3 linked regions of the Homo sapiens genome follow. The protein of the gene in region 2 purifies or fractionates together with the protein of the main gene of each other region. This does not show direct contact. Each region holds a gene or a part of one and is shown on either strand. Other genes may lie near its edges.

Evidence for each region.
Region 1: the proteins of ISL1 (region 2) and RNF20 purify together in Homo sapiens (affinity purification with western blotting, with the first as the bait; one study listed by BioGRID). This does not show direct contact.
Region 3: the proteins of ISL1 (region 2) and BCL9 purify together in Homo sapiens (affinity purification with mass spectrometry, with the first as the bait; one large-scale study listed by BioGRID). This does not show direct contact.

The regions. Positions count from the first base shown.
Region 1 is NC_000009.12:101,547,312-101,550,960, reverse strand, and holds part of RNF20 (E3 ubiquitin-protein ligase BRE1A), read right to left. Parts: intron 3,563-3,649; coding exon 3,443-3,562; intron 356-3,442; coding exon 176-355; intron 1-175. UniProt on the Homo sapiens protein: Component of the RNF20/40 E3 ubiquitin-protein ligase complex that mediates monoubiquitination of 'Lys-120' of histone H2B (H2BK120ub1).
Region 2 is NC_000005.10:51,389,930-51,393,578, forward strand, and holds part of ISL1 (insulin gene enhancer protein ISL-1), read left to right. Parts: coding exon 1-3; intron 4-1,344; coding exon 1,345-1,512; intron 1,513-3,564; coding exon 3,565-3,649. UniProt on the Homo sapiens protein: DNA-binding transcriptional activator. Recognizes and binds to the consensus octamer binding site 5'-ATAATTAA-3' in promoter of target genes. Plays a fundamental role in the gene regulatory network essential for retinal ganglion cell (RGC) differentiation.
Region 3 is NC_000001.11:147,540,225-147,544,392, forward strand, and holds the start of BCL9 (B-cell CLL/lymphoma 9 protein), read left to right. Parts: upstream 1-1,276; 5' UTR 1,277-1,450; intron 1,451-4,168. UniProt on the Homo sapiens protein: Involved in signal transduction through the Wnt pathway. Promotes beta-catenin's transcriptional activity.

The sequences.
Region 1 (3,649 bases), on a different chromosome or scaffold from region 2:
GCAGGAATTTTGTCATCTCATCTTTATATGCCCAGTACCTACCAGAGTAAAGACCTACTGCCACTCTATGAATGACAGCTGAATGAATGAGAGATTAATTGCACATGAGGGAGTAAAATTGTAAAATTTAGGAGGCAAGAAAGCTTACATACAAAAGACAAGGCAAGGCTATTACCTCAATAAGCTCAACCTGGTGCTGGTGGGTTCCTCTGGTGCCATGAAGCAGGGTCCGAGCCTCATCCAAGTGTGCTTTCAACTGTAGGCTCTCATTATACAAGACGGAGAACTGTGACTGCATGCAGCGATATTCTGGAGTTTCCTTAACGACTTGCTCCACTGCACTCCGCAATTCCACCTTAGGAGGGCCCAAAGCAAAGTCAGAAGCAGAATCTAGCATTGCCCCAGACGCTAGACAGGAAGTAAAATTTTGAACTCACTGATGTCCTACACAAGAGAGACAATTTTATAAAGATTATTAAGTTATCTACCCATTGCTGTAGTTATGTAAAATCTACCCCAAAATTAAATTAGACTAACTAGGAGATGGTACCTGGATATACTGTATTCTTTCCTCCTAGAATTGTTTTGATATGTGTTTTATATTCTGTGTCAAATGAGCCACCAGAAGAGTGAAATTTGTCAGGATGCTTATTTTAAAAACATAGTTGAGGACCCCAGTCACTAACTTGTTCTCTTTAATAACAGTGACAGAGAAAAAAATTGACAGGGTATCAAAAATAGTTATGCCTCTCCTAAGCAACTATCTGATTTAATTACTCAAACACTTTTAACTGATTTAACTTAGGTTGTTTTTGTTTTTTATTTTTCAGTTCAAACATCTTTATTCATATCATTTAACCTACAAACAACTTGTAAAATAGAGATGACTATGATCGAAAGAGGAGTGAGAAAGACTTCCAGAATCTCTTTTCTTCTCCTAAGATGTGGGCGGCAAGCCACCCAGGTGCCGAGGCAAGAGACCGAGGACACGAGCTGTTCCAGTATAATAAAATATAAAACAAGAATAGTTATGCCAGATATAGATCTTAGATATGATTATATATGAATATCATTAATCATCAGTTTGTAGCAATTACTCTTTATTCCAATATTATAATAATCCTCGCTCTATAATCATAACCTAGGAAAAACCAGGCCATACAGAGATAGGAGCTGAGGGGACACAGTGAGAAGTGACCAGAAGACAAGAGTGCGAGCCTTCTGTTATGCCCAGACAGGGCCACCAGAGGGCTCCTTGGTCTAGCGGTAATGCCAGCTTCTGGGAAGACGCCCGTTACCAGGTGGACCGTGGTCTAGCGGTAGCGTAAGTGTCAAGGGAAAACACCTGCTACTTAGCAGACCAGGAAAGGGAGTCTCCCTTTCCCGGGAGGAGTTTAGAGAAGACTCTACTCCTCCACCTCTTGTGGAGGGCCTGACATTAGTCAGGCTCGTCCGCCGTTATCCGGAGGCCTAACCTGTTCAGTGGTCACGCTCCTAGGCCGCCTTCATGTTCCATCCTGTACACCTGACTCTGCCTTCTAGATAGCAGTAGCAAATTAGTGAAAGTATTAAAAGTCTCTAATTATCAGAAATAATGGCATAAGCTGTTTCTCTCTCTGTCTCCTCTCTCTCTATGCCTCGGCTGCCAGGCAGGGAAGGGCCCCCTGTCCAGTGGACATGTGACCCACGTGACCTTACCTACGATTGGAGATGGCTTGCTCTCCTTATCCTGCCCCTTTGTCTTGTATCCAATAAATATCAGTGCAGCCTGGCATTTGGGGCCACTACCGGTCTCCGCAACTTGGTGGTAGTGGTCCCCCAGGCCCAGCTGCCTTTTCTTTTATCTCTTTGTCTTGTGTCTTTATTTCTACACTCTCTCGTCTCCGCACACAGGGAGAGACCCACCGACCCTGTGGGGCTGGCCCCTACACTAACAACCTAAGAAGAAAATTCTTCTGGGCAGGTTTGAAGACCAACAGGATCACCAATCGTGTTTCTTTCTCTGTTTTGGTAGCAAAAAACTGCAGAGCCAAACCTGTGGAATCACTTCGGTAAGCACTGACATGTGAATGGCCTCCCTTCCACAGTATATATATGCCCCCTGCAAACATCTTGTATACAAGCCCCACTTTAATGCATTTTGGATCCTCACCCTAGTTTACCCTACTTCTCATTTTTCTCAACAACTCCTACATTACAGCACCTTGATTTAGTCTACATATCTTTGTATGTTGCTTTAAATCCTTTTCAGGGCAAGGCAGAGTACATATAATAAGTAAATATGTAAGTAAAGAAGTAGATATATCAACAAAACTTAACATTTTTTCTTTGTTCCCCCCAGCTTTATTAAGGTATAATCAACAAATAAAAATTATACATATTTAAGGTATACAATGTGGCATTTTGCTATACATATACACTGTGAAATCATTACCACAATCCACCTAATTAACAAATCCTTCACCTCACAGTTATCTTTTCGTGTGTGGCAAGAACATTTAAGATCTACTCTTAGCATATTTCAAGTACACAATACAGCATTAATTATAGTCACCATGCTACACATCACCAGAACTTATTCATCCTGCATAACTAAAACTTTGTACCTTTTCCCCAACATCTTCCGATTTCCCCAACCCTGGTAACCACCATTCTACACTCTGCTTCCAAGATTTTGACTTTTTTAGATCCCACATACAAGTGAGATCATGCAGTATTTGCCTTTCCGTGCTTGGTTTATTTCAGTTAGCATAATGTCCTCTAAATATATCCATGCTGTTGCACATATACACACACACACTCACATACAAACACACACCACATTTCTTTATCCATTCAGTGTACAGTTCTTTCATCTCCCTGGTTAAGGTTATTCACAATTTTTTTTAATGGTATTGTAAATGGGATTGTTTTCTTAATTTCTTTTTTATAGAGTTTGTTGTTGGTATATAGACACACAATTGTTTTTGTATGTTGATTCTGTAGCCTGCAACTTTACTGAATTCATTTATAGTTCTAACAGTTTTTTCGTGGAGCCTGTAAGGTTTTCTATATATAAAGTCATGTCATCTATAAACAGAAACAACTTTACCTCTTCCTTTCTGATTAAGAGGCCTTTATTTCTTATCCTTGCCTAATTACTCTGGCTAGGACAAAAGTAATGACAGCGAGCATCTTTATCCTGTTCCTGATCTTAAAGGAAAAGCTTTCAACTTTTCGCCATTGGGTATAATGTTGGCTGTGGGCTTGTTTTATATGGCCTTTATTATGTTGAGGTACACTTCTTTACACCTAATTTGTTAAGAGTTTTATCATAAAAGGATGTTGGATTTTGTCTACATTTTTCTTATCCCTCATGAATACGCAGATTCACAACTATGTATATACGTGAGTTGATCAGCAGAACGTCTGATTTTACTGCCCTTCAGGGATGCGTTCCTACCTTCAGCTTTTCATTTTGTGTAGTGACCTCCTCAAAGTCTTGCCGAAGTTTCTCCAGCTCACAGAGACGGTTCTGAGCCAACTCTTTGTTCTCCTCAAGCTCTGCATTCATTTCCTCAAACTGCAGAGAAGCAGAAAAATAGAGAATAAATAAGTATTCTTCTTAAATCATTTCTAAGCTTCCTTTCTTCACTGATTCGCTATTCCA
Region 2 (3,649 bases):
ACTGTGAGTGGCTCTGGGGCCGGGCAGGGAATGCGAGGGGGAAGGAGACGCAGCGTGCGAGGTGCGTTCCTGGTACGCAGGATCGCACGGTTTTCAATCCTGCTCCTGGGCAGGAGTTTGGCCGGGGCTGCCCCTCATCCTTACCCCCCTACCCATGCCCCGGGGGACAGGCTACCCGGCGCCGGCCGCCAGCTGAGGGCGGGGAAGCTGGGAGGCTCCGTGCGCCGGGGGAGCAGCATCCAGGTCCCAACCTCGTGGGTGGGCTCATGCCCTTCCACCTCGCCTGTACCTGTGAACCGGAGAAACGCCGTCCTCCCCTCTGAGGGCAGGCGGCAACGAGGTTTGGCCCGGGTTTTGCCAACATTCAGATCGTCAGTTCCTCACGTACACAAGAAGAGGGAGGGATAATACCTTGGATTCCTGCCTACATCCAGGGGTTCCGTGGGCAGGTCACCCTGTGAGCCCCCAGGGCGCACCGCACTTCTAAGTAAGGTCGGCCGCTGCGCCTTCAGGCTGGCGAGTTCCCCCAAGGTGACCCGCATGCCCAGATCACCCTCTGCTCCAGGTGAAGCCCAGGCCTCCACAGAGGCATCAGGCCCCTCGCACCAGTATCCACTGTTATCTTGGTCCCACGGAAGCACCCACTCTGCAGGCCTCCTGGTGAAGTTAAGCTAGAGTTTCTTTTCTTCCTTTTTTTCTTTTCTTTCTTTTTCTTTTTTTTTTTTTTTTTTTTTTTTTTTTTTTTTTTTTTACTGCTTTGGACCTATTTTTAAATGCCATAAAATCTGCTGTCATTAAACTTGGCAGGCTGGCCAAGATTGGGCCAGGGCACTTTCTGAGTTGGTTAGTGCATAATAGCACAATAGGAACCAGACCCAAATGCTTTGGGGGGATGGAGTGGGGGGCTGGCTCTTCCTTGAGGAGAACGGCTTGGAAAAAATCTGCAGCTAACTGAAACTGCTCAGAAAACCACCCTGTCTAGAGGCTGAAGGGAAGCCCTGCTTACCTCAGCTTTTTAGTTCTGGGAAGCTATGGTCTGAGAAGGCAGAGGGGAGGAATTGGGCTGAGCTGTGAAGGTAAGGGGGAAGAAGAAAATCAAAGTAGAATTTGGTTTAATAAGGTCCATGCAGACCTAATAGTCCAGCCCACAGAGGCAGAAAAACAAAACAATAAAACAAATTGAATTCTAACTAATATCCGTAGGTACGGCGGATTAACTGAGTCAATAAAGACCACTATATAGATAAGATAATACCAGGGTATATTTGCTTAGCCTGTGCAGACAACGGAGGGAGGGAATTTGCTCATTAACATGTTGGGATTGGTTGGGGGGCCTATTCACAGAATATCCAGGGGATGACAGGAACTCCCATGGTGGCTGCCAGTCCAGAGAGACACGACGGTGGCTTACAGGCTAACCCAGTGGAAGTACAAAGTTACCAGCCACCTTGGAAAGTACTGAGCGACTTCGCCTTGCAGAGTGACATAGATCAGCCTGCTTTTCAGCAACTGGTAAGTGTCAGCTCCCAGATGGAAGAGGCTGAATTCCCAACAGGAGACTCTGGTTTAACTGTCACACATTGAAAGATTCAGTGGGGAGGGTGCCTTCTTGGGCTCAGGGTTGGGGAGAAACCAAGGAGGTGGGTAATGAAGAGAAGGGAGACAAATGCAGGGAAAACGAACCTCTTGGCATCTTTTTTTTTTTAATGAGACTGCATAATTTGACCATATAGGTTGAATTTTCTATCAATCAGGCCTTCTTTGAAGGATTAATTTCAAGGTACCTAACTCTAGGTAGCATGTGCCAGAAGATGTACAGTGTTGGAGAATCATACATCTTAGAATTTTAGAGTTGTCAAGGACTTCAGGAAATCGTCTTGGCATTTCAATCAGCAATTAGTAAGTTTATCCTTCCTGAGCATCTAGAGAATGGGATATATAGGACCCAAATCAAGGCGATTGTAGTATATAATCAATGCTATAATACACAATCAGTGTTGTTATCAATAAACAGCAGGCATGTGTCTGGGTACAATTTTCAAATATATTAATAAAGATTATTCAAATAGATGAATACTTTTTGTTACAGTATCCCTTGCTGGGAATGTCTTAATCTAAAATGTAGGACCGTTTAAATGTTTTCAAGTGTATGAGTTCAAATGTCATAGAGACACACAGTGTGTACCATGTATAGCAAAAGGGACATGAGCTCTACCAATCAGAAGTAAAGTGTTTAATCTGTGAAAACCTTAACATGTTTTCCACATCCAGAGAGGAGAAAATTAATTCACTTTTTGCCTACAAAAGGCTTAAGGGGTCAAGATAAATAAGAACAATAAATATATGTCCTTTGTAATATGCTATATTTATATAGATGATTTTTTTTTCTTAAAGAGTAATCAGCCTTATAGAATCTTGTTTTATAAAATGTAAAGATCTATCCTGAAACCTTGTTCCCTTTTTTGGAAATGAAGCTTTAGTTGAGGTTAGCTTTTTACCCTCATATTTACCTGGAGGGCATTTGCTTTCTCAATGTCAACAGTTAGGTAATTGGCCAGAGGCAAGTGGTTAAAAGGGCTTGGCCCCAGGCTTGTGTTTGCAAATGCTAAGTGGGTGCAGAGGCTAGAAGTCCCTTAATCTCATATTGGAAAAATTTACTGTAGAAAGAAATGTAGGCTCTAGAACTAGGAAAAAAAAATTATTCTAAGCTCATTAATCTGTTGAGTTATTTGAGCGAATCCTGAATCACAGGAGGAAGGTAAGGGGAGGCTTCAGGGCAGCCAAATGTTTGCACTTTCTGAAACTTTAGTGTCAGATGAGAGCAGTGGAAGGGAAGCTGAGGCAGGAGTGGGCATAGTTAGAGAAGGTTTACAACAGCAGTACAATGCGTTTAGGGTTAAAAGAAGGAGTCAGATATTTAAGAAGGAGTCAGATATTAGGGTTAAAAGAAGGAGTCAGAATGGGATGATGTCATAATATATGGGTCTCATTTTGGAAGGAAGAGCCTGATTTAAAGAGAGAGAGAGAGAAAGGCCAAGAGGCAGCAGGACCAACAAGGAAGAATGCCCAAGCTGTGAGCCTGCTGAGGAGTTAATCTTTGTTCTGTGGAGCCTCCTCTCAATCTCCTGTCAAAGGATCTGAGCCTGTTACGGATTTTCCAACTGAAGAAGAGAGTCTTTGATGCCTAGAGACTGAGAGCTCACCTACTCCCAGGGCAACATGTAGCCAGCAGGATAATTTTATTTCGAGCATGCATAGTAGAGTTGTGATGCCATTTTACAGTGGGAAACACATTTGTTCTTAAATAATTTAATGCAACATAATGTTGGGAATTCAGTTTCAGTTAAAACAGAGATCTTTTGGAAGATGGGAAAGTGAGAGGATTTCTTCCCAAGTTTTTCTCCTCTAGGCTTTCTCTAAGCCTGTTAAAATTCAGTTATCTATGTGAATATCTTTACATATCTATCTACACAAACATTTCTACATATACAATATGATGAGTTTATAATCTTTTTATGAATACTATTCCAGTGTCCTTTATTTATTTCTCAACCTTCTATGCAGGTCAATTTTTCAGAAGGAGGACCGGGCTCTAATTCCACTGGCAGTGAAGTAGCATCAATGTCCTCTCAACTTCCAGATACACCTA
Region 3 (4,168 bases), on a different chromosome or scaffold from region 2:
TGTTGTTTCTCTCTCTCTCTCTCTCTCTCTCTCTCTCTCTCCACTCCTTTACAGCCCCCACCTCCTCCCTCCACACCAATCAAATTCCTGCTTGTTTCTTGCCATATTCATTATCCTACCTCATTCCCCTCTTATTCCTAGAAAACAGCACACTCACCCTCCCCTCCTCCAACTCTCAGGCCCACCCTCCATAAATTCCAGCAGCCTGGCAATCAGTAACTTTAGCATCACACTTCACAGCTCTCCTAGTTTACACTACTTGTTACTACTCTCCTTGCTACTGCTCTCTAGGGTTTCTGCTAAAATAAAAAATAAAAAAAAATAAAAAAAGCTTCACTTTAAAAATATCTTGGGTACAAGTTGAACCTACAGTTAAGTTTACTCACACATTTACACATTTCATGATTTTATTTTAACTAGTAGCTCAAGTCCATGCTCAATTATGCAGTGAAAGAAGGCTAGATCCTTAGGAAACAAATTTTTCTCTATTGTAAAGAAGAAAAATCACCTAACCACTCAACAGAAACCCCAGTCCTGGGGCCACTCACCCTCTTATCTCCCTACTCCCCCAATCTCCAGCTAATGGGACTTTGCTTTTTCCTTTGTCGGGTCATTTATTTCACTTTTCCTGGCGCTGAGATGGCCTGAGTCTGTGTATGTGTGCACACGTGTGTGGCCACTGCTTTTCTTCCAAAGGACTCACCTCTCTTCTGCCATTTTACTAGGACACAGGAGGCGGCTCTCTGCTCTCGCTCTCCCTCTCTTTTTCTCCCTGCCCCCAACTCAGCCTGGGCTTTTTCCTGTCTCTTAACTCCACCAGTGCAGCAGCAACTAGCTGAGCTGCTTGAGAGAGAGAGAGAAGAGAGAGAGAGAGAAGAGAGAGAGAGAGAGAGAGGAGAGAGAGAGAGAGAGAGAGAGAGAGAGAGAGAGAGAGAGAGAGAGAGAGAGAGAGAGTGTGTGTGTGTGTGTGTGTGTGTGTGTGTGTGTGTGTGTGTGTGCCTGCGTGCGCAGCTAGGCCAAGCCTGCGAGCCTGCCTGTCACTGGAGAGTTTTAGTTTGCATTCAGAAGAAAGGAGGAGGGGAGACAAGAGGGGAGGAGGAAAAGGTGGAGGGGGGAGGAGTGGGGGGGCGCAGAGAAGGGAGGGAGAATGTCTTGTTTGTGGCTTGTCAGCAATTGCTTGAGACAAGCTTCCATGTGTGAAAGCTACTTGGCATGAATGCCTGGGCCGTACCAAGTGTCACCGCAGCAAGAGGGGGAGTCAGAAGAAAAACAGATCAGACCAGAGCAGACAATAGGCCCCTAAAGTGTTCCCCCTAAGTTGCTTTGATGTTGTCCTGGTGTCTTGATACCAGGAGGCCAGGGATTGCGGGAAAAGGGTCTTTTTTGTCTTCATTCACTTTCCCCCCTCAGTTTCTGAAATGATTCTCCAGAATTTCTCCTCATAAAAAAGGTAAGAGCCCTAACAATTCCTTCTTCGGTGGCAGGCTTGTTCGCCTGTGCCTGGAAGTGGGGGTCTCATTCCTGCGCTGCTCTGGAGGAGCGCTGGGGTCCTGCGATTGGAGCTCCTGCGTTGCCCCTGGAAGTCTTTCAAGGCATCCAGGACTGGGGATGGCCCCTCTTTCGAGGGAACCCCAGTAACACGATCTGTGCCTCTGGGTTGGTGGGGGAGAAGGGGTGGATGGAGAGGGCTGGGAGGAGGGTGTGAGGGTGGGAGGGAAAAGAGAGAGAGAGAGGGAGCGCGAGAGAGGGAAGCCTGGAAAAGAGGGAGAGAAGGGCAGAGCCTTGGTTCAGGGAAACCCCAGCCCAGAGCCCAGGGAGGCCTTGCAGGCTCCGAGCTGTGCATTCTCAGGCTGAGCAAGGGCCGGCCAGGGCTCCGCCGAGTGACTGCAGAGATTGCATCGAGCTTTGTGTGTGCCAGTGTGCCCGTGGGTCTGTGTGTGCGTGTGGACTTCCCACACACTGCCCTGGCGTGCCTCGCTGTGAAGGGGAGGCACCCCGATCCTTACCACCCCAGCCCAGACTCTCCGAGGAGGAGCGGCATGGCAGGCAAGAAGGGAGAGCAAGAGAACTCTGCCACAAGACGATCCAGAAACTTTTCCAGTCTCAGGGATTCCTCTGGTCGTAGAGACTGTTGAGTTGTGGGGTGCCCCGTGCCTCAATTTCCCCATCTGTAAAATCAAGGTTGCTGATCAGGGATGCTGTATGCCTCCCTGGGATTGAGCGAAACAGAACAGATCACTGTGTCTGAAACGCGTGGAGAAATCGTCAGCTAGAGATGCTGTGGAATCACAGAGTAGAAGTGTTATCATTATTCTTGATCATCATCATCAGGGTAATAAAAACATCATTAAAGACACCCTGAGACAAATAGACTGAGGAGCACAGATCAAGTGTCTGAGCATTTCTAAGGAAACAAAAAGCCTTGTTCCACCTGTTGGCTTCTGTCCTTTTTCTCTTGTGTCTTTTCGTTAGATTTATTGGCCGATTTGTACAGAGAATGGGGTGGGAGGGGTTGGGTTTTCCCCTTTCCTCCTCCTTGTACGTATTTTTGTTTTAAAGAAGGTCAATGTAAGATGCTTGAGCGAGAAAATGTGCCTCCTGGTATAGTAGTTTATTCAAGACCTTGTGTTTTCTGGGGCTGGCAGGGCATGCAGACGCATCTGTAAACTCTACCTTGGAGGTTAAAGATTTTTATTGTGGCTTTTAGAGATTAAATGAGATTTATTTACAATTGCTGTTTATCAGAGAGTAAATATCTTACTGTGTGTGTACGAGGCTAAGAATGTGAAGGCTGTTTACTCGCCGGTGGTTTTGTGGATAAAACCTTTTGCTTTTTCAAGTGACATCTTGAGGGATGGAACAGAGGGCTAAAATCAGTGCCTAACATTCATCTTAACAATTTTTTTTGAGGAAAAAAAATGTCTGCTTATTTTCTTGAATTGTGGATTTCCTTTCTTCTGTTCCTACACATTGATTGTTTAAAGGCTCTCAGTTGTAGCTCTCTCTGAATTCTCTGGAGGAGTTCTGCTTTCTTACCTAATTCTAGGTTTTCTGTGACTCTGCTACTTGTCCAAAAAAATCTGTAAAAGTCTAGGAGGCTGTGCCTCCTTCCATTCTAACTGCAAATGTTTATCAGACTGACTCCCTGTGATAGCTGGAGATTGAAGCAAAGGGCCAGCCCTGGCTGAGAATATTTATGTGCTTTTCACAGAGGCCTGGAAACCTGACTTCTGAGTATGGGAAAAGCTGAAGGAAAGCCATTAGTTGGCCTGGATCTGGCAAGAAGGTCCCCCTACATTTAAGGTTTTATTAAAATAAAGCTGTATTTTATGCATATATATATCTGAAAACTTAGTTGTTTTCTACTTTATAGTCAGAGATCTTACCATGGTTGTTCCTGACAAGATTTCAGGGTCCAGATATCTTCCTAAAATGTTAGAATTTAAGAACTGCAAGGAAAAAGAAGTGTTATTCCATCATGTTATAGATGAGGATGTTAAGGTCCAAGAGAGATAAGCACTGATCTGAGGCGGGTGCAACAAAGCTGTGGTAACATCTAGACCACACCCTGGGGTTCAGAGTACCCCAAGGGTCTTCATGCCGGGTACCCTTACCTCACACCCACATTTGATTTTACAAACTCCAGCACTTGGCCAACCAAAGAGAGGCACCTTTTGTAGTTCTGCTTGCTGTGCTGGATTACAGCAGCACACTCTGCCCTGCTCATGTCATCAAATGGTACAAATATGCAAACATGGGTCCACAACATGAATTTGCATAAATTCATTCATGTATTCATTTGTTCATTCAACTTATATTTTGGGGCTCTTTACTCTGCAGCAGGCAAATACTGGGCACTGAGGATATAGGAAGAGAAAGGCAGATATACCCCTGCCCTCAGGGAACTTACAGTCTTGTTGGTATGATCAACATTAACCACATGGTCACACAAACCAGTAATCATAATATTGATGATACTTGTTGAATAGCATGCAAGTATTATGACGGAGTGCATAGAGTTGCATAAGTTATTGACTCAAAGTGTGTAACTAGACATAAGCTAACTGTTCTCTTTCTCTGTGTGGCTGAGTTCCCCTTGCCCCAGCCAACCTCCATTCCACTGGTGCCATTCCTATTCACAGGGAGCCCAGCAATTCCAAAGAGCAGA